Homo sapiens: one gene and its partners. The protein of the gene in region 2 purifies or fractionates together with the protein of the main gene of each other region. This does not show direct contact. Each region holds a gene or a part of one and is shown on either strand. Other genes may lie near its edges.

Region 1 (5,353 bases), on a different chromosome or scaffold from region 2:
ATTTGTGTGAAAGAGAAAACAGGTCACCCATCTCATAATTTTAGAGCTAGAAACTTTTTGTCCAACCTTTCCTAATGTTTTAGAAATTACCTAGGTCACACGGGCCTGATCTCATAGCCATCTTGTATTTGAATTCATTTATTCTCTTGATATTTATCAGGCATCTATTACGGGCTGCCACGATATTACACAGCAGTAAACAAGCCAGTCGAGGGGTCCTGGTCTTATACGTTTATTTTGCTCTGTGAGAAGTGAAGACTCGAGGGGAGTGACTACAGAGACCCCTCCTAATGGTGTTCTTTGTTTTTACACCGTCCCCCGCCACCCAAGTTGAGATGGAGGATGATGACTTCACGGCCTCCCTGTCCAAGCAGAGCTGCATTACTGAACAAACCCAGTATTTCTTCGATAACGACAGTAAATCATTCAGTGGTGTATTAGACTGTGGAAACTGTTCCAGGTAATTTATTTATTTCAGGAGTAGTCCTATTTCATTAAGAAATTGTATATACTGTTATAATCATTAAGAAATTGTATATACTGTTATAATCATTACAGAAAAAACTGAAAATTGTGTTGGAGTCAGAGATGTGAGTAATTGTTTTAAGCTGAAAATGTCAGCAATCTTTAGTTTCTCTGTAGACTTTTAAAATTTGTAATTTTTAAAATTCTAACTTTGATAAGCTGTTATTTCTTCAACTATAATAATTACATGATCAAGATAATTCCTTTCTCTTTAGGCAGAACATAGAGAAATTTGATTATATTTTAACTTTTTTTCCTAAAATAACCCATATTAAAAATTTCTAATATAAAGTTATTAAATATATTAGTAATTTAAATAATTCTAAGCCAAATATTATTTATTTTTCTATATAGTAACTAAACAGATTTACAAAAAAAAAGTCTTGTTTTGTTTTGTTTTTACTTCTAGTCTTCTCTGACTTGAAGAACTGAATGTTATCTTTATTTGAATTTGAAGGAACTGGGAAAAATACAGTTTTTTTAGGTCATGGTTAATGTTAGTCAGTATCCATAAAATATCTTTTAAAAAGAGATGGAGAATTTAATTTTGTTGTAATGAGGGTAGAGGAGAAAGGCAAGATGGGGATTTTGAGGGGAAAGTAATAATTAATGCCACAGGATTCCTGAGAGGAGAGCAGCAAGTCACAGCTTACAAAGCACAGAGTAGAGACACTTTGTTTTTAGAGGTGGAGGGAAGATTATTCTAGAAGAAATGTTACCATAGCGGAAGAAGAAATAGGAGGAGGTGAGGTAATCTGAGATTATGAAAGTGCCAGAATAGTTAAAAAAAAAAATTTTGCAAGAGGGGCTAAGCAACCTATCATGAATTTTTAGGAGACGTGGTCAGTATGTTTTATGACTTTCTTTAGCAGACCTCTATCTCCAAGGAGGAGGTAGAGTATATAAAGAGGAGAGGAAAGGGAAGGAAGAGTCAAGCATGAACTCAGAAAAAAAGCAGACTGTCTTGTTTAGAGGAGATTAGCATATCAGGCTATGGACTTCAGGAAATGGGATTGTGGCATGTTTATTGGATACATCAGAGTTTCACAGACATTGGCCTTTTATTAATTGACATCCAGCAAGAGCAATTGGTGTGCTTAAAGAAGTAAGTTAAATTGTAAAGTGAAGAAGGTCAGTATAACCAAGATGTTAAATTGCATCATACTTTCCTTTTGATTTGCTTTATGGAAATCAAAGCTTAACAGGGCAAAAAGAAAATCCCACTTTTCTGCAAAATGTATAATGATAAAGAAATTACTTTTTTAGTGATATATTTACATTTTTTATGTTGGTTACTAAAGTAAGAGCAGCTTAAGGTGTGGACAAAACAGGGGATGGAATTCAAAACCCTTGATTCTGTCCATGTCTGTGTTGCCCAGTGCAGTAGTTACCACCTATAGGTGGCTATTGAAATTTCAATTACAGTTAAATTAATTAGAATTAAAATTTTGTGCCTCAGTCACACTTGTCACATTTTAAGTGCCCAATACCCTCGAGTGGCTAGTATTTACCATATTGGACAGTGCGAACAACTTTTCCATCTTCACAGAAAGTTTGCTTAATAGCACTGTTCCAGACTTTTCTCTGCCCTTAGGTTGGGCAAGATGCCTAGACATTTTTGTATTCCCTGTTGTGTTATCTGTAAAATAAGGCAACTTTGGCATAAGCATCACAATTCTTTGTATGTGTAAAGAAAAACTTTTTTCTATGTACATCAACAACTAAATTGTGCTTATTTTGCAATGAGGATTAATACTTTAAAATGGTCACACATAAAACATATATTGCAATTTTTTTATTCATTTGACATAGGTAATACGTTCATGCTAATAAATGAAGCATTTTTTTCTTCTAAAATCATACTCCTATTGTGCTGGGAATGGTTTCTGTTTCAGATGTCATATTTTGTCTTTCATTTTAATATGTAAGAATCTTTGAAAGATTTCCATTTATTTTGGAAAAGATACTCATTTTCTATGATACCATATTTATTTTGCAGAATCTTTCATGGAGAAAAGCTTATGAACACCAACTTAATATTCATAATGGTTGAGAGCAAAGGGACATGTCCATGTGACACACGACTGCTCATACAAGCGGAGCAGACTTGTATCCTTTGACATCAGAGCTATCTGGAAAGGAAAACCATCTTAATGCATTTTGAATCTTGTCACATTGTTTATATTCATAAAGAGAAAACTATTAGACTGCTCTGATCACCTCGCAAAGGCAGAATCGATTCCTCACTCAAAATTTGGTTGGAATGTCAAGAATAATTATGCTACACATGCCCCAGAAAAGGATAATTCACAATTTAGTTCTTTAAATCCCTATGTACTTGAATTGTGTTGGATGAGAGTAATGATGTATAAGTTATCTCTCTCACATGTTTTGGGAAATACATTGCATTGTATTTATTTTTAATCATGTGAAAAAAACTAACATGAGATTCCTTAACAAGTCTCTTTTAGCTGACGGTCCAAATCCTTGTGACATGGTTAAGCAACCCAGATACCGAAAAGGGCCTGATGTCTGCTTTGATAACAATGTCTTGGTAAGATCACACTTCTACTGGATTAAAATACTATAAATTAATGGTCACTGTCCGCAAGAATTCAAGGATACAAATTGCAATTTTAACTCAAACGTAATGTCTTAACCATAGTTTTTCTCATTAACATGACATACTTGCTGGTAGATTTTTTTCATTTCAGTAGTTTTCATGGTTAGCATAAACTTGACAGTTGCTTCTTTTATATGTCCTTCCCACAGAAATTGTGCTTTCAAACACAATTCCAATCAATTTAACTCATAGTAAATGTTAATTATGGTATATTTGTTGCCTCCATTTATATTCCAATCCTGAAGATATAAAAGTTAATTTTATTATATTTTTGTTAGTTATATTTGTCTTCAGTGAATTGAAAAACCTGTTATACAGCCATTGTCTTATTATTACAGAGTTCTAGTGTGAATTGAAAAACCTGTTATACAGCCATTGTCTTATTATTACAGAGTTCTAGTTTCTTTTGGATGGTTTCTGATGCTATCACATATTAGACTTCTATTATTTCCTTTAATTGTACTAATTTCTTTTTCTAGTGTTTGAAACTAGACCAGGTCAATTACATAGGGTTTGATAAAATATTACAAATCATATTTAATATATGTCACTTAAAGATGGCTTACTACTTTTCCTATAGTTCAGCTATCTTTCTCTAATAAATACTATTCTGATTTACTGTGTATTGATTATATACAAGGTAGGTAATATGTCATCAGTATGTACTACATTAGCTTTATGCTTTTAAAATTCTTAAGAAATATTAATCTATTCTCAAAGATGAAGTCTACATAAAAATCTCTGTCTACCTCTTTTTAACTAATTTTAAATACAATACTTCCTAATTCTGATTCTTCAGTGTGTGCACACACCAATGAATATCCAAACTTGTAAAGCATTATCTCATAAATTATTTGAGTTATTTAGTTTACCTACTCAAATACATAGCTGCATTTGTCCCAGAAAGGACAAAACATTTTCACAGATAATATTATGCAATTAGATAATATAAATTAAAAATAGCACAAAGAAGTAATAAAATCAGTAATGGGGACTAAAAATGAAAGATGTATTAGCCAGTCAATCCCAGTTATCTCTGTGAGGGATTATTGATCCTTGCTAGGGAGAGTAATTCAACATTGCAACTAAGCGTTTTTTTTTTCTTTTTAAGATATATTAAGTCCAGATAGGCGGACTCCTGTTATTCTGTCTACTGCAACTTCAGCACGTTGCCCATGTAAAATTATTCCCCCAAAGAATGTTTTATGAAGGGCCAAGGGTCATGTCACTCATTAGAGAAACTTCGCTCATCAACTATTTGTCACCAGTTTTTTGACACTAGAAATATTAAATTCAGATGAACTTGAAAAGTGACTTAAAAGCCTATTGCCCAAAATATTATTCTAGGAGGCTATATCTTATGATCAAGCCATTAAAAGGATTTGACCAAGACAAAAATGTTCAGCAATTGAAGCTCCTATAAATGGGTTGTGTGTGAAAGTACAACTGTTGCTCAGTAGCTTGGTGTGCTAATAATATCTTGTGTTTCTTTAGCAGTGGAGTTATTTTGGTAATGCTTATTTGCAATGGTCACTGTGAATCTGCTCTGGATGGAGACTCACGTTAACTGCCAGCAAATTGCATGAAATCTCATCTTGTATGTCTTCTGTGTTTTCTTTCCTTTTCCTATACTTGCTACTTTGCCCGTTATTAATAGGATCAACTTAAGTGCACAACGAGTCGTGCCTGTACCATGATGTCAGCTCCTATCTTCATTTTACTGCAAGTTTTCATGTGGTGTGGATGGTCAGTCACTTTCTCTAATTTTTCTTAGTTTTTGTTTTTGGCTTGAAATTCTAGAAAATCACCCATATTCCTAAATCTGCGATATTAATGTTCCTGAAACCAGGTTATTAAAATCTCAGGACCAATGTTGTTGTTTTGTAAATAGCTGATTTCAAATGGCATGTACATTTCTAATCCTAAATGAAACATATTCAATATTTATGTAAAAATCATTTTTCATAAAGTTTTTGTGTAAAAATTGTCATTACAGAGACAGATATACAGGCTTCATGGTATTTTATGAGAACTACCTAATGACAATTTTTAGAGGTGGTTATCTCAATTTATTTACAAAAGATGCTAACACAAATTTAATGCACTCTTTCAATTCCTTTCAGATTTTTCTACTTTTTAAAATAAATCTGACTTAAATAACTTTTTAGATTTTTTACTCTCAAAATATTCTTATTGAAATATTTT
Region 2 (5,353 bases):
GAAATGATTCTCACTCATCAGTGGGTTTTCTTTCCATTTATGATTAAGGGATTCCCCTTTGGCCTTTTTCACCAGATCCTGGGTACACGTCATTTGCACAGCTAACACGGCTAGATCTTTCCAGCCTGGGTAGAAGAATCCCGGAAAAAGACAGTAGTTTATCCTTTCTCTGCTCTCCTGAGCACCCTGTGGAAAGGACCATATGCTGTCTCTATTGGGGATGGGTGTGAGTCGCCTACTCAGTAGCTAACATCAGGGCCACTTGATGAATCATCGAATTAGAAACATGCATATGGAGGAAGATGCAGTCACTATCCCTCACCACTTACTTGTCCCACCCCCAGTATCAAAACAAATGACCTCTGGGCCTGGCCTAAATTCAAGAGGCCCCTGGGAAGAAGCTGTTGGAAACTCTTCCCCAAACCCAGGTCTCCATCATAGCCACACAGTGTTGCTTTCAAATAACCCAGTATGGTGTTTTATCACGTGTTTAGGTTACTGGGGGAAAAAAAAAACCCTGAAAACAGCATCACCAGGGTCCTTGACTTGGTCCTTATCAGCAGATAATCCCCCGTGGTTGGATTAAAATGCCTCTGACTCCCTGGGGTGCCTGACTCACCCTAGCCAGCCCTCAGCTTCTTGGCCAGCGGCCTTCGAGCCCATCCTCACCTCTTCCCATGACGGCCAGTGACTGCTTCTTTGCCCAGGCCCTCTGCACTAGGCCAGCAGCCAGTGGGAGCAGAGGGGATGGGAAGGCAGGTGGACAGACTGTGAAGTGCTAAGGCAGAGCGGGGAAGCAGGGCTGTGAGACAGGGTGGGTGAGCTCCAGGGCCTGGGTTGCTGTGGCCTGCCCTGGCTGTGATCAGCTGTCATTTCCTCTTTGTGTATGACACTGTGGAACATATTAAAATTTCTCTGGGATGGTATGTTTGGAATTCCTCTGATGCCCCACCTCACCAACTTACCCGGACAATAAAAGCAAGGTTGTAAGCCTTTGAACAGCTGGCTGGCTATATATTTCCCTTCTTTCTTTCGCATAATCTAATTCAGAAAAGAATCCAGCTAGACTGGCAGTGCCATGTCTGGGTACTTGTTTCCTGCAAGTCCTTCCTCCTCCACCTCCTCCCGCCAGTCCTGGAATCTTCCTGGGTGGCATGTGGCTTTTCTTTTCTTTTGCTCACCACTGCTCCCAGCCCGCCCCCTTTTCCCTTCGCCTGAGCTCCTTCCTTTGTCAGCTGGCTCTTTGCTCTGCCTGTTTTCCAGACAGCTTGGGTCCTGTTCCATCCGGGGAGAACAGCCCATGGGATCTCCCCATCTCCATAGTATTCCCAGGATGTCATTCTTGGCACCAGCTCTGCCGGGCTGATAGGACTGGGGGGCTTTTTGTAGTCCCGAGCCTGAATCCACTCACAGAGAGGAGCAGCCACATGGCTTAGCTGCCCTTTGGGCTGCCGAGAGCGGGGCTGGAGTGACCGGGTTGGCAGGAACGAGCATACCATCACAGTGACCCGAACATCTCCGGCAAAGGCCTTGGGGTGGGAGCGCTATGGGAATGCCTGGATGCACTTCGGCCTACATTAAGAGAAATGTGGTTATTCTCTGTTTCGGGGGAGAGACAAGCGGCTTGAAACAAAGCCCTCTGGATCCTTGGCCCCTTCCCTGCCCCCTTTCCCGGTCTGTCCTTCCCACATCCCTCCCTCCCCAAACAGAAAGAAAGAGAGACAGGACTTCTAATTTGGCCAGCACAGACCCGAATGTCTTTATGAAACCCATTTAGTGAAAGAAAGAGGGGAGAAATATATTCTGGGTTGATCCGAACTAAAAAATGCATGGGGCTTTGGAGATGGGGCGGGATTTTTTCTTTCTTTCTTTCTGTCTCTTAAGAGCAGAACAACAGTTTCGTTGATGAGTTGCAAATGGAAGGAAGTGGACCTCTCAATTAGAGATTCCCATTTAAGAGCCTCAATGTAAACCTCCCTGTGACATCCTTAAAAGATGCTGCTAATGTCCCTGGGACCAAAAGGTATTAAACAGCAAGCCACCAGGCGGCTTCCTATTCCTTTTCTTTTTCTGGGGGCTTTGGTCGTCTTTTTCAAATTAGCTAAAATTCATTAAAGGACCCAAAAGGAAAAATTTAAAGCAGCTGAATTAAAATGAGTCTTTCCCTGTTAGCCTGACAAGAAGAAAAAAAGAAAGGAAGAAAGGGAAAGAAAGAGAAGAAAGAACCAATTCCCCTCCACTACCACTTCTTGGGTTTTAATATGAATTATTCCATACAAGTCCCTAGGCTAGAGGATCTATTTAAAGACGCCTGGCAGCATGAAGGGAGAGGGTAAAAATACAACCACTCTTTTGTCCATCAAAGGTTTTCTTTGGGAGGACATTAAGAGCATTCCTGTTTTCTTGTCTGCCCCTGCCAGTGGCAATGTTCCAGCTGGTAGTATCCACTCCTCGCCCATCAGGTCAGCAATCATGAACTTCTGTGTTTAATTTCAGGAGAAAACAAAGGGTGGGAAATCCTTCCGAAACCCCTATGTGTGTGCAGCAGGGCAGGGGAGGCTGGAACTGGAATCAGTACTCTCTTGGCTGTGCAGGTTGCATGCTGCAAATTCACACACCCACACAGTTGAGTTGTTGAGGAAGATTGTGCCGATGGCATTATTTCTGATGCCAGCTTCCCTTGCATCTGCAAAGCTTTTTTCTTGTGTCTCTGGCAGTCATTTGCTTGTCACCATTCATGTGCACTGTCCCCTTCATCAGAGGTTCTCAGAGCCTGATGGTCAAGGATATGTCACTAGAGTCTTACCCCCAGACCCATTTTCAACAGTAAGAACGTGAAACCCTGGATGGGGTTTGCAATCTGAAGCAACTACTTTCTTGTTAGGAAGAGTGCTGACTCAGAAAATTCAAAGAATGGGTAACTTCCGTTGGCGACATATCCCCAGTGCTCATAATCAGGAATTCATCCAGTTGGGGTCCATTTCACCCTCATGGCAAAATCTGGACATAAACATTGACTAGTAGCTTTAAACTGGGTATAAGATTTGCAACAGATAACATTTTTGTCTTTTCTTTTTTCTTTTTTTTTTCCACAAAAGCTAAGAATTTTTCAGACAATTTGCTCTCTTCCAAGGCCTGGATCAATCCCAACTTTTTCTTTTAAGCCATGATCCAACCAATTGCAGTATCCTTTAAAAATGAAAGGGCAACAGGCTAAGACATTCAAGAAAGTTGATAAGCTGTCAGAAAATGCTCAAGGGTGGCCTTTCTACAGTGCCACAAACCAACAACAGCCCTAAACGTGGAGTCCTCTTCCATCCTTTCATCAGTAGGGAATAAAAATAGGGAGAGAGCAGGTCAGGGGAGAAGTAACAAAAGAGAAGTAAGAAGGATTATTTTTGATGTTCAAAATCTGCTGCTGCCCTTTCAATATTTTCAAATATCACAATTTCAGAAAGGGAAGGATCCCTTTATTTCACCCACTCTCCCTCCCAGGAAGGTGTTTGAAGTTGCTGTCTTTACCTGAAAAGGAGGTCAACTCCTCAAGTGAAAAAACATCCCCTATCTTCAACTCGAAGTAAAATGGAGGTACACACATTTGTACCTAATTATGTGGGTACAAATATAATTTGTATCCACAAACTATAAAGGATGTAAAGAATCAAAGAAATCCAATCCTTAATCAAAGTCCAATTTTTCTTTAAAACTTGAGAGGATATTTTAGGGCTCATTGCATTGCTGTGATTTCACTGCCCCCCACCAAATTATGAAAAATTACTCCTTTTCAGAATTTAAATTTTTCTTTTGAGATGTGGAATCCAAAGGCAGCAGAATAGTATTGTTACAGGGAAGCTGGCAGTCAAAAGACATAGACATAGCTGCAGCATGCATGGTTTAAGCAAATCAAGACAAGCAGAAAACCACCACCCCAACAAGTTCAGGGTTATCAGCAATATAGGGACACGTATTTTTATGTGATTTTTATGAGAACCTTGCCCCTTTGACATATGTCTGAGTCTAGGAGCATTCCGGATTGCAACGGGATTGAATTCAGTATTCAAATCCCACCATTGGGCAGAAAAGGCAAATTGAATGGGGAATGGAAAGACTGAGTTGCTCCTATTGTTTATGCCCCATTCCTAACTAAGGGCTCTACAGCTGTTAGGTGAGATCACTACCCACCATTCCAAAGTGTTGTTGCGGGTGAGGAGGTTCAAACGCAGCTTTGGAAACACTTTGCTGCACTCTTTGAAGAAAGGCCAACATGCTCATTTGGCTCTAGGGTAAAAGAGAGCCTGTACCCTGAGCTAACATTGGTCACCTCTCCTCCTGAGGCCATACCACAGCCAGCAGTACAGCAGCAGAACAAGTGTTTAGTTGTTTCAGCACAGGTATCCCCAGAACACCTGGCACCTTTTCTTTTCCACAGGGAGAATGTACATTCATGCATTTTGGCAAGACTGAGTCCTCTGAGTTGGGTGTCTCGGAACTCTCCTATTTTCCTTCTAAAGGGTCTTATGTAAGGTGAGCAGTAGAGTGTGTCTCATTCCTCATAAAAAATCCCCTTCCTGGGAGGGAGTGGGTGAAATGAAGGGATCCTTCCCTGACTGAAATTGTGCTATTTGAAAAAATTGAAAGGGCAGTGGCAGATTTTGAACTTCAAAATGAATCCTTCCTCCTCCTCCTCCTCTTTTGTTACTTCTCCCATGACCTGCTCTCTCCCTACTTTAATTCCCCATTGAAGAAAGGATAGAAGAGGACTCTGTGTTTAGGGCTACTGTTGATTTGTGGCACTATAGAAAGGCCACCCCTAAGCATTTTCTGACAGCTCATCCCCATCTCAGTCACAGCTTTTATTTGGGTAGCTGGATTTACAGAAATAATCAAATCCCTAGAGGAAAAGACTTCAACAGAAAAGTACCTCCTGACACTTGGGTAACCTGACTTGGTCATTTCCAATTTATGCAAGATTTGTATTCTAAAAGTCAATTAGTTATGTCAACTGTTAAAAACTCAGAATGAGTCTTTCCATTCTTCAGAATGACTCTTTTCTGATTATCTGTGGGCCATAGAAGCCCACAGATACTCAGCACAGGATCCAAGTGCCATACCAAGTGGTCAACTCTTTTAGACGTAAGTCTCAGCCCAGGGCTTCTGGAATGTACCTCCCCTAGCAGAGAAGCTCTGTAGTAGATACTTTACCAAGCACAGGGCCTCGCTCTTGACCCCAAGACTACTGATTCTACTTGCAGAGAAGACAACTTTTCTAATCAATCTTTCTCTTCTATCCTGAACCAGAGTATCAGAGATTGTCCCATTAGGGCACGAGGATCTGTGGCTCAAGCTCAGTTAA
Region 3 (5,353 bases), on a different chromosome or scaffold from region 2:
TTCTTGTCATGAAATCACATGCTTATCTAGAATTTGACAGGATATTTTTGTTGAAATAACCAGTGTTAAATAATAGCAAAGATAGATATGGTTGGGCACCTTCATTGCATGATTAATAGGATAGGCATTAACTTCTTTTAGTATCTGTGATAAATTAAAAATTATATTCCTATTAGAATTTGAGTACTTTTGACCTGTCATTCATTTGATGTAGGCTTTGCATTATCCTCTTCAAAGTTTGGATTGGTTTGTATTCCATCAGTCAACTAAATAAAAGATTGCTTGTTCTTTTGTTTTTTTTTTTAATTTTTATTTTTTTGAGCAGGGTCTCACTCCATCACCCAGGCTGGAGTGCAGTGGCACGATCAGGGCTCACTGCAGCCTCAACCTCACAAGCTCAGCCTTAGCCTCCTGAGTAGCTGGGACTACGGGTGCATGCCACCATGCCCAGCTAATATTTTCATTTTTTTCTTTTTCTGAGACAGAGTCTTGCTTTGTTGCCCAGGCTGGAGTGCAGTGGCACTATGATAGCCCACTGTAACCTCGACCTCCTGGGCTTAAGTGATCCCCCAACCTCAGCCCCCTGAGTAGCTGGGTATACAGGCATGCACCACCATGCCCAGCTAATTTAAAAAAGATTTTTTTTTTAAGGAGATGGAGTCATACTATGTTGCCCAGGCTGGCCGCAAGTGATCCTCCCACCTCAGCCTCCCAGAGAGCTTCAATTACAGGCATGAGCCATTGTGCCTAGCCACATACCTATTTAAAGTTGAAAAATAACTTATTCTGTTAAAATTACGAAGTAATTATTAATTGAGGGTTCCCAAACTGTGTTTCAGGCAAGACATTATAATTATGTTCTATCAATAAAAGGTTCAAGCCTTGGGAGGCTGAGGTGGGAAGATCACATGAGGCCGAAGTTCAAGCCAGCCTGAGCAACATAGGGATACTTTGTATCATAAATAAATCAACAACCAAACTAAATAAACCAATATGTTTGGGAACTGATACATACCCCACCCCATTTTTGGTTATTTAATAGTACATAATAACATTAAAGGCTCTAAAAAGTAATAAAGTTTTTTAGCTGAACATTCTAGGTAATCTGTGAATATGTCTTGGTGGAAAAACATGTTTTGCAGCATTGGGCAAGAAAAGGACTGATAGTTCCAGGGATTTGTTCATTTTTCTCTTTGTTTCCTCCCACTATAGATGACACATTTCTTATCCCCAGCTTACTTACAGAATATTTGCAAAACATGGAACACTTGTACTTTCTAAGAAACTCTGAGACCATCACTGCTAGAAAGTTAAGATTTATAAAACTTTTTTGAAACTTTAGAATCTAGAGTATCAAGTATATCATATCTTAGAATTAATAGATATAATTAGCATACTTTCCTGAAATGTGTCATTCTTCCTAGAATTAGATTTTGTGAATATTTTATTTCAGTATGATCTTAATTGTTTTGAATGTTTTCTCCTATTCAAAGAGAAATGGTTTAGAAAGCAAGATATAGAATTTATGGTTCTTAAGGGATGTTTTATAACATATTAAACAATATTAGTGTTTTTTATAAATGTACTTGTTTTTACAAACAGATTCTGAACGGTTGCATAGCTTGTATGAACACATTGACATATGAAGAGAAACAAATATGCTTTTTCTCTCCTGCTTGACTAGGATATAATGACTACATCAAGATGAGCATTAATCCTAAGAAACTTGTAATGGGTGTTCCTTGGTATGGTTATGATTATACCTGCCTGAATCTGTCTGAGGTAGGAACAGTCATTTGTTACATAATTTTTATTATCTATTATATTTTTTAGAGTCTCTCTGTTTTCATTAGAAATATATAAACTTTAGAATCTCTGAAATATAGTTTGAGATAAAAATTATTTATTTTTACTTCTATGAAAGCTTATGATTATCATACATTTTCATTTAATAATGAAATTTATTTTAACCTTTTTTCTGTATAGTCAGGTTTTCTATGGTATATGTTTTATTTCTAAATAATTTATATATTTTTGGTTTGGCTTTTAAGAATTGCATAATTGATAATATATAACATGAGCACTTTTGCATTTCTAGGATCATGTTTGTACCATTGCAAAAGTCCCTTTCCGGGGGGCTCCTTGTAGTGACGCTGCAGGACGTCAGGTGCCCTACAAAACGATCATGAAGCAAATAAATAGTTCTATTTCTGGAAACCTATGGGATAAAGATCAGCGGGCTCCTTATTATAACTATAAAGTAAGACTTTTCGTAAGTTATGAGCATTTATTCTATTAGTTTTTGTAATTATTTTCATAATTAGATGTTTGATATCAAGAATTTCTATCAGTTTTCTTTTAGGGCATAACATGCAGACTGCTATTTACATGAGTAAACTTGTCTTTGAATCTGTAATCAGGAACTTTAGTTCCCTGGCGAGCAATTGGAGTTTTGCTAATGGTGAATCTACTCTGCTTGGGCCACTTGTCATTTAGATGATGCCATAAAAATGTGCATATCACAAACAGGATTTCTGTAACAGTTGACAATTATGTTAGGATGACTGTTGATTTTGAATGGGTTTTGGGCCAAAATAAGTTACTATCTCTGAAAGCCTCCATTTCAAAGTGGCCTACAGATTCTGATGAGACTTACATAGGGAGGAATGAGGCTGAGAACAGAAGAGGTGTCATAATCGACTTTACAATGGAAAAACTATCATTTTCAATTTATTTTATAATTAAATTATAAAGCAATGTCAAAACTTACAAAAATATTACATAAAGGAAACCTGAAGAAATACACTAAGTGATTAGCAATTCTGTCAAGTAGTGTTTAATAGGAATTGCTATACCAAAATGGCAAAGAAAAGTTACAGTTTTCATAATTTACCTTTAGCATTATAAAGGCTCTTCCACAGCTCAAAAATCTAAGTACAAATCCTCTTTGAATTTATTTCAGATTATGTTACTTTAAAAGGAGTACTAAAATGATATAAGTGAAGTTCAGCAAGGATTTATATGCTTAATTAATGGTCTGGTACCCATTTATAAAAAAATGACTGCAAACACACTACATGTCATAAATTATAATTGATATACATGTGTATGCCTCCACAGAGAGCTTTAGTGTAGAGCTTTCTAAACTTTGGAACTGAAAGTATATACCTATTAGTGAAACTAGAGTGTATTGTAATCTTATCTTTCCTAAACAGTGTTTATATTAGTCTGTCCTGGGAACTGTTAATATTACACACACAGATGCACATGTGTGCAAAATATACACACGTGTGCCATGGCCAAATATATTTAGAAAAACACTATATACTGTACGCCCCTCTTGGAGATTTGTAACAACAATTATATTAATGGGTTTGAGAAGTGCTGTAATACATAAGGTAGTTTAATTGTTTGACATATAATCTTGTTTCACAGCATTCTTAGAAACATGCAGTTCTTAGAAACTGTTTCATGGATATGGTTTGTTAAAAGTTATGGTAACCAATTACATATACAGGCATACCTTAGAGATATTGCAGAGTCAGTTCTAGACCACCACAATAAAGTAAATATAGCAATAAAGCAAGTGACATGAATTTTTTGTTTCCCTGTGCATATAAAAGTTATGTTTATACTATACTGTAGTCTGTTAAGTGTGTAATAGCATTATGTCTAAAAAAAGTACATACCTTAATTTAAAAATACTTTATTGCTAAAAAAATGATAACGATCATCTGAGCCTTTATCAAGTTATAACCTGCTTGCTGGAAGAGTGTCTTGCCTTGTCATTGATGGCTGCTGACTGATCAGGGTGGTGGTTGCTGAAGGTTGGGGTGGCTATGGCAATTTCTTAAAATAAGACAACAGTGAAGTTTGCCACGTCAATTGACTCTTCCTTTCACGAAAGATTTCTGTGTAAAACGTGATGCTATTTGATTGCATTTTACCCACAGTAGAACTTCTTTCAAAATTGGAGTCAACCCCATCAAACTCTGCTGCTGCTTTATTAATAAGTTTATAGAATATTCTAAATCCTTTGCTGTTATTTGAACAATGTTCACAGCATTTTACCAGGAATAGATTCCATTCTCAAGAAACTACTTTCTTTGCGTATTCATAAGAAGTAGCTCCTCATCTATTCAAATTTTATCACGAGATTGTAGCAATTGAGTCACATATTTAGGATTCACCTCCAATTCTAATTCTCTTGCTGTTTCCACTACCTCTGCAGTTACTTCCTTCACTGAAGTCTTGAACCCCTCAATGTCATCCATGAGGGTTGTAACCCACTTCTTCCAAACTCCTGTTAATGTTGATATTTTGACCTCCTCCCATGCATGAATCATGAATGTTCTTAATGGCATCTAGAATGGTGAATCCTTTCCAAAAAGCTTTCAGTTTACTTTGGCCAGATCCATGAAAGGAGTTACTGTCTTTGGCTGCTACAGCCTTACAAAATCTATTTCTTAATTAATAAGAGTTAAAAGTTGAAATTACTCCTTGTTCCATGGGCTGCAGAATGGATGTTGTGTTAGCAGGCATGAAAATAACATTCATCTTGTGTTCTCCATCAGAGCTCTTGGGTGACCAAGTGCATTGTCAATGAGCAGTAATATTTTGAAAGAAATCTCTTTTTTTTCTTAGTACATCTCAGCAGTGGGCTTAAGATATTCAGTAAACAGATGTGCTGTGAGCCAGGCTTTGTTATTCCATTTATAGATCACAGGCAGAGTCAATTTAGCATAATTCTTAAGTGCCATAGGATTTTTGGAATGGTAAATGAACACTGGCTTCAACTTAAAGTTACCACCCTCATTAGTCCCTAACAAGAGAATCAGCCTGTACTTTGAGCTTTAAAGCCAGGTATTGACTTCTCCTGTCTAGCTAGCAAAGTCTTAAATGGCATCATCTTCTTCCAATATAAGATTTATTTGAAGAAAGGGGTCTCTGCCTTTTAAAATGTGTTTGATCATAATTTTACCCGACATGGGAGGTTTCAGAATGAAAACCCAAAGATACAGGAAAAACTGTCCATTTTTGTGCTTAGGTTCAACGAAGTATGGACAGCTATGTAGAACTGTGATCAGAATAAAGGGCATGAGCTAATGCAAACAGACTGAGTGGGAAAACTCAGCAAGGACTGTCTGTTCAGATTTTTCTTGGCCTCTCTGTGAAGGATTTCTTCTCATGGGTATGGGGTAGGACCTCTCTGGAATGAGGGTCTTAATTTCTTTATGGCCAGCTATTACACAGAAAGGTGGTGGTGGGAAAGGTTAGAGTAACATTTTTAGACTTTATGGCTGGTTTTGGGGAAAAGAGGCTCTAGTTTCTATGACCCATTTTAGGGAAGAGG
Region 4 (5,353 bases), on a different chromosome or scaffold from region 2:
CTGTGTGAAACTCTGGAGGGCCTGGCTTTATTTTTTCCTTAGAGAGAAAAATAGAAATTGTTCAACTCACTAAGTTTCTAAATTAGGAACAGGACCATAACATACTGTTCAATAAGCAGAGCCAATGCTTGAAATGTGTTTTGTTTTCACATTATGGTCAGTTACGGGAAGCCACAGGAACAGACAGCGAAGGGAGTGGGAGCAGGGGGCAGGGATCAGGCAGCGGACGCAGCAGAGGCTCCACGCTCCAGAGGGGCCGCCCGAGGGAGAGTGCCCCAGAGTGTGTCAGTGCCCCAGGGCCGGAGCAGAGGCTAGAGAACTGTAAATCATGCTTTCTACCTTTGTCTGCCTGCTGCAGGTGGTCTCTGGTGCTCACTTGAGGTAGATTTTTGATGGGGATCCCTGTACGGGGTGACGGTGGCTGGGCTCCACATGGGAAGAAAGAGGGTGGGGGTCCCTGAAGGAGGAAGGAGGCACAGAGGCCTGGCAGAAGCAGCTGTGTCCCACTCCTGCCGTTTTGTCCTAGTGTCCAGGGACAGGGTCACTGCACACATGAGAACATGTGTCACACACACACATCAGGCCGCCCCGAGTTGGGGGTCGAGGGTACTGCTCAAACCATCCTGGATCTCTGCCCAGGTTGAAGGGTCCGCAGGATTGGAGTCCATTCTCTGAGAGGAGCCTTGTTTGTGTGTGTGTGTGTGTGTGTGTGTGTGTGTGTGTGTGTGTAGGGATAGATCTGGACAGGGGATCACACACGTGCAACTACAAGGGTTGGGGGGAAGGGAGAATGGGGTAACTGATGGTAGGGGGTTGTGAGCAGGACCCATGAGTGTCCCCTGTAGGTGCAGAGTGGTGTGTAGGCATGAACGTGTGTGCCCTTGTGCCCATGGTGGCAGCTGGGGTGCTAGGCAGGTGGGTTCCATCTGGCTGGAAACACACAGGTTAGACACAGGTATACCTGTTGGGGGGTGTGCAGTGTGCGCATGCGTGTACAAGTACACTTGCCTGTGTTGAAGCAGGATCTGGCATGCCCCTGCCCCTCCAAGAGCCCCCGCCCCCACCCCTGCTTGCTTCTGGCCCCAGTTGATTAATCATGGAGCTGAGTGGCTTCCAGCTTATCAGGTAACTTAATAGCTGAATAATTCCAGCCCCATCAGCAGGCCCTTAATTGCTTTCTTGTGGCTGAAGCCTGGAGTGCATGCTGAATGGGTGAGCTCCTGGGGGACCAGTGCTAGCTCCAGGCAGCATGCTGGACTGAGGGCTCCGAGTTCCCAGCACCCAGCCACCTGGGCAGCCCCTCTCCAGAGGCTACCAGCCACAGCTGCCCTGCCTGCTCATGTGGGACCTGGAGGAAGAGTAGGCTGAACTGTTCCTTTCACAGCTTGGGAGGGGTGAGGATCAGAAAGTCTTCCTGGAGGAGCTGGGGCAGCCCCAGCTGGGCCCTAGGAAATAGGGAGGGCCTGGATAGGCCGAGAACAGTTGGGGGATTCTAAATGGGGGCACAGGCATGAGTGTCGTGGTGGTGGGTTCGACAGGACACAGCCCAGGTGCTCCCCACCCCAGCTCCCCGCTTCCCCCCAGCCACTGTCATCCTCAATGAGCTCAACTGGACAGAGGCCCTGGAGAATGTGTTCATGGAAAACCGCAGACAAGACCCCACACTGCTGTGGCAGGTCTTCGGCAGCGCCACAGGAGTCACTCGCTACTACCCGGGTAGGTACCAGCCCCTGTCCCCTGTCTACCCAGCACCTCGCCTTTCTCCATCTACCAGCCCACCCATCCTGGGGGCATGGGGCGGGGTGGCTTCTCTGTAGTCTGTGGCAGCCCAGTCGCCTCTGCAAGGTCTGCCTACCCAGGCCAGCCCTTTCCTGCCAGTCCCCCTCACCTTCTCTCCTCCCTCAGCCACCCCGTGGCGAGCCCCCAAGAAGATCGACCTGTACGATGTCCGAAGGAGACCCTGGTGAGCGAGCAAGAAGGGGCTGGGGAGGGACACCCCCTCAGTTCCCCACCTTTCCTGCCTGCTCCCCTCCCTCCCCATTTCCAAGCCTCCTAGCAGGGCGCAGCCAGCTGTATCCAATTTTCATTTCACACATGGTTGCCACTGGAAAATGGATCCCATCACCCAGGCAGGCCTCCCAGCTGCCATGCCCCCCGTCCACTGCCCAGCACCCCCACCCACTCAGGACTGAGAGATTGGAAGGGAGATTGGACCAGAAGGGGTCCCCAAAGGCAGATGTAGCCTCTGTAGGGTTGGCCAGTCCCTGCCCCACCCGTCTGAGCCCCAGATATCCCTCCCCTCTGTTCTGCCCCTCCGGCAGCTCCCTGTGACTCTCCTTCCCTGCCACCTGCACCATCCCATACACAGCTAGACTGTGCCCTCGGGGCCCCAACCTGAGGCAGAGGACACAACAAGCCACTGAAGCCAGGGAATGTGGCTCCTGCCCCCTCTGGGGATCACCTGCTCATATACCCCCTGGTACTTTTTCCTTGCTGAGGAACCAGACCATTCATGTCATGGGCAAGGACTGTGTCTGTTTCGTTAAATGTGGTATCATCGGTGCATAGAACCCTGCCTGGCCCACACAGTGCATGCTCAAGAGAAATGTATTGAATCAATATGTATGTGAAGGAAGGAAGGACCCACAAGGTCCCAGTGGGCCTTACCCTAACAGAGGCATCTCCTGGGCAGGTATATCCAGGGGGCCTCGTCACCCAAAGACATGGTCATCATCGTGGATGTGTGAGTGAGCAGTGCTGGCAAGTGGGGCTGGGGCAGGGACGGGCAATGGGCTAGACTCTGCTGCCCTGAACATCTTGGGGGATGGGCAGGAGAACACGTGAGGTTCCCCTGGCTCCTCCACGTCCCCTGCCTGACCTCTCCAGGAGTGGCAGTGTGAGCGGCCTGACCCTGAAGCTGATGAAGACATCTGTCTGCGAGATGCTGGACACGCTGTCTGATGATGACTATGTGAATGTGGCCTCGGTGAGTGCCAAGGTGGCAGACGGGGTGAAATGGGTCACCCCATCTGCCCTGCTCCTGTGACCATCACCAGCCCCATGCAATAGCTGCCTACCCCGGCCAGCCTGAGGCCACTCACCACCCTACTGTTCCTGCAGTTCAACGAGAAGGCACAGCCTGTGTCATGCTTCACACACCTGGTGCAGGCCAATGTGCGCAACAAGAAGGTGTTCAAGGAAGCTGTGCAGGGCATGGTGGCCAAGGGCACCACAGGCTACAAGGCCGGCTTTGAGTATGCCTTTGACCAGCTGCAGAACGTGAGCCCCATGGGTGGGCAAGTGGGCGGCTGGGGGAGTAGAGGGCCCTGGCTTGGTGTACCCAGGAAATCAAGACGGATGGCCTCGTTAGCACCAAACAGGCAGCTTGGACAGATAGCTCCATCTGCTGTGGGGGAGGAGGGCCAGAGGTCCAGGCCCACTGCGGGAGGGAGGCCCTGCCCCTGGACCAGGGAGGGCTGAGAGCTGCCTGCCTCCGCCTCACTCCCCTCAGTCCAACATCACTCGGGCCAACTGCAACAAGATGATCATGATGTTCACGGATGGTGGTGAGGACCGCGTGCAGGACGTCTTTGAGAAGTACAATTGGCCAAACCGGACGGTGAGGCTCAACCGAGGCAGGGGCTACCCTGACCTGGGCCCAGTACAGAAGAGGGCTGTCCCCTGGTGGCCACAGCAGTAACCTCAAACCCCCCACAGGTGCGCGTGTTTACTTTCTCCGTGGGGCAGCATAACTATGACGTCACACCGCTGCAGTGGATGGCCTGTGCCAACAAAGGTACCTCCCCTGCGCATCACTGTCAGGGGCCTGCCTGCCATTTCTTTTTGTCGATTGCGTATGTTCAACTGGCCATCCATATGTCCAGCTGTGTGTTCACCCGCTGCAAGACAGTGTGCCTCCTCCCATCCACGAGGCTGTCCCTCACTCTATCTGGGGGCTAACGGGTCCACCTAACTGAGCCTCTTTTTGCCCGTCTGTCTGTCCATTGTCCAACCGTCCCCCAGCTTGTCTACTCCTGCGTCTGTTTGCTGATCCGTCCATCTCTCTGTGCACTTGGGCCTGGCTGCCGGGTGGACTTTGAATGGCATTGCACCCTAAAATGAGGGACCTCAGACCTCAGGCTCCTCCCTCCCCATCTCTGCCCCCTGCTCTGCTTCCTGATACTGCTGCACTCACTCCCTCTCCATAGCACCGCCCTTGGCAGGGCAGAGGCCGGGAGCACTAGAGGGAGAGGACCCCAAAAAGAGAGGAGCCCAAGAGGCGAGGCAGGGCTGCAGACACACCCCAGGGGCAGGGCCCTCTGCACATGGATCCTGCAGTGCCAGCCAGGCCCACCTCTGCCTCTCCTTCCTTCACAGGCTACTATTTTGAGATCCCTTCCATCGGAGCCATCCGCATCAACACACAGGTGAGACTTGGGGAGGCCCCTCCTCCCAGCCCCTGGCTTCCCTGCAGGGACGCTGTGTGCCATGGGCTGCTGTGGGCCAAGGGCGCCCCCTCACAGTGGCTGGGGCACAATCCCAATGCCTGGCGAGACAGAACAGGCAGTGCCTGGGAAAGGCACTCATTACCCCCACCACTGCCCCCTCCCCAGGAATATCTAGATGTGTTGGGCAGGCCCATGGTGCTGGCAGGCAAGGAGGCCAAGCAGGTGCAGTGGACCAACGTGTATGAGGATGCACTGGTAAGGCCTCTGGACAAGGAAGGGGTGGGGCTGGCACCCTTCCCCCGGAGATGTGCCCACAGGGTCAAGACCCTGGAGGGCCCCCTTATGGGGTAAACCAAGCACAGGAGAAAGAGGTGGCCTGCACCTCAGTCCCTGCTCTGAACACTCAGGGTGGGGTCAGTGCTGGCCACAGGTGACTCCATCATCTTCCTCTCCCTTCAGGGACTGGGGTTGGTGGTAACAGGGACCCTCCCTGTTTTCAACCTGACACAGGATGGCCCTGGGGAAAAGAAGGTGAGGAAAGGGGAGGGTTGGGGCTATGGGTGTGCCTGGGGAGGAATGGGCATGCCCACAGCAGGTCTGAGGGTGGAAGAGGGGCAGGGCAGGCCTGCACACTGCCTGTGAGAGCAGCTTGAGGCCTTGTGGAGGGTGGTTCCCCATGGAATTGAGCTCACTGAGGAGCCCCCCATGCTTCTGCTCCCAGAACCAGCTGATCCTGGGCGTGATGGGCATTGACGTGGCTCTGAATGACATCAAGAGGCTGACCCCCAACTACACGGTGAGCATCCCCCTGCCCATCCGCGTACCCTGCCTCCCATGTGGACACAGGCAGGCTCAGCAGAGAAGACTGATGGGTATTACAGCGCCTCCATGGAGACCTCTGAGTT

The links. The genes of interacting proteins can lie anywhere in the genome.
Region 1: the proteins of NDP (region 2) and CACNA2D1 purify together in Homo sapiens (affinity purification with mass spectrometry; one large-scale study listed by BioGRID and IntAct). This does not show direct contact.
Region 3: the proteins of NDP (region 2) and CTBS purify together in Homo sapiens (affinity purification with mass spectrometry; one large-scale study listed by BioGRID and IntAct). This does not show direct contact.
Region 4: the proteins of NDP (region 2) and CACNA2D2 purify together in Homo sapiens (affinity purification with mass spectrometry; one large-scale study listed by BioGRID and IntAct). This does not show direct contact.

Annotation. Positions count from the first base shown.
Region 1 is NC_000007.14:81,957,001-81,962,353, reverse strand, and holds part of CACNA2D1 (voltage-dependent calcium channel subunit alpha-2/delta-1 isoform 1 preproprotein), read left to right. Parts: intron 1-330; coding exon 331-460; intron 461-2,524; coding exon 2,525-2,634; intron 2,635-2,996; coding exon 2,997-3,079; intron 3,080-4,805; coding exon of another isoform or gene 4,806-4,922; exon of another isoform or gene 4,923-5,309; intron 5,310-5,353. UniProt on the Homo sapiens protein: The alpha-2/delta subunit of voltage-dependent calcium channels regulates calcium current density and activation/inactivation kinetics of the calcium channel. Plays an important role in excitation-contraction coupling.
Region 2 is NC_000023.11:43,965,679-43,971,031, reverse strand, and holds part of NDP (norrin precursor), read left to right. Parts: intron 1-1,411; exon of another isoform or gene 1,412-1,572; intron 1,573-5,353. UniProt on the Homo sapiens protein: Activates the canonical Wnt signaling pathway through FZD4 and LRP5 coreceptor.
Region 3 is NC_000001.11:84,560,164-84,565,516, reverse strand, and holds part of CTBS (di-N-acetylchitobiase precursor), read left to right. Parts: intron 1-1,684; coding exon 1,685-1,782; intron 1,783-2,098; coding exon 2,099-2,260; intron 2,261-5,353. UniProt on the Homo sapiens protein: Involved in the degradation of asparagine-linked glycoproteins. Hydrolyze of N-acetyl-beta-D-glucosamine (1-4)N-acetylglucosamine chitobiose core from the reducing end of the bond, it requires prior cleavage by glycosylasparaginase.
Region 4 is NC_000003.12:50,377,358-50,382,710, reverse strand, and holds part of CACNA2D2 (voltage-dependent calcium channel subunit alpha-2/delta-2 isoform b precursor), read left to right. Parts: intron 1-1,584; coding exon 1,585-1,716; intron 1,717-1,905; coding exon 1,906-1,963; intron 1,964-2,692; coding exon 2,693-2,743; intron 2,744-2,886; coding exon 2,887-2,986; intron 2,987-3,120; coding exon 3,121-3,279; intron 3,280-3,511; coding exon 3,512-3,619; intron 3,620-3,717; coding exon 3,718-3,796; intron 3,797-4,377; coding exon 4,378-4,427; intron 4,428-4,613; coding exon 4,614-4,703; intron 4,704-4,907; coding exon 4,908-4,979; intron 4,980-5,169; coding exon 5,170-5,244; intron 5,245-5,353. UniProt on the Homo sapiens protein: The alpha-2/delta subunit of voltage-dependent calcium channels regulates calcium current density and activation/inactivation kinetics of the calcium channel.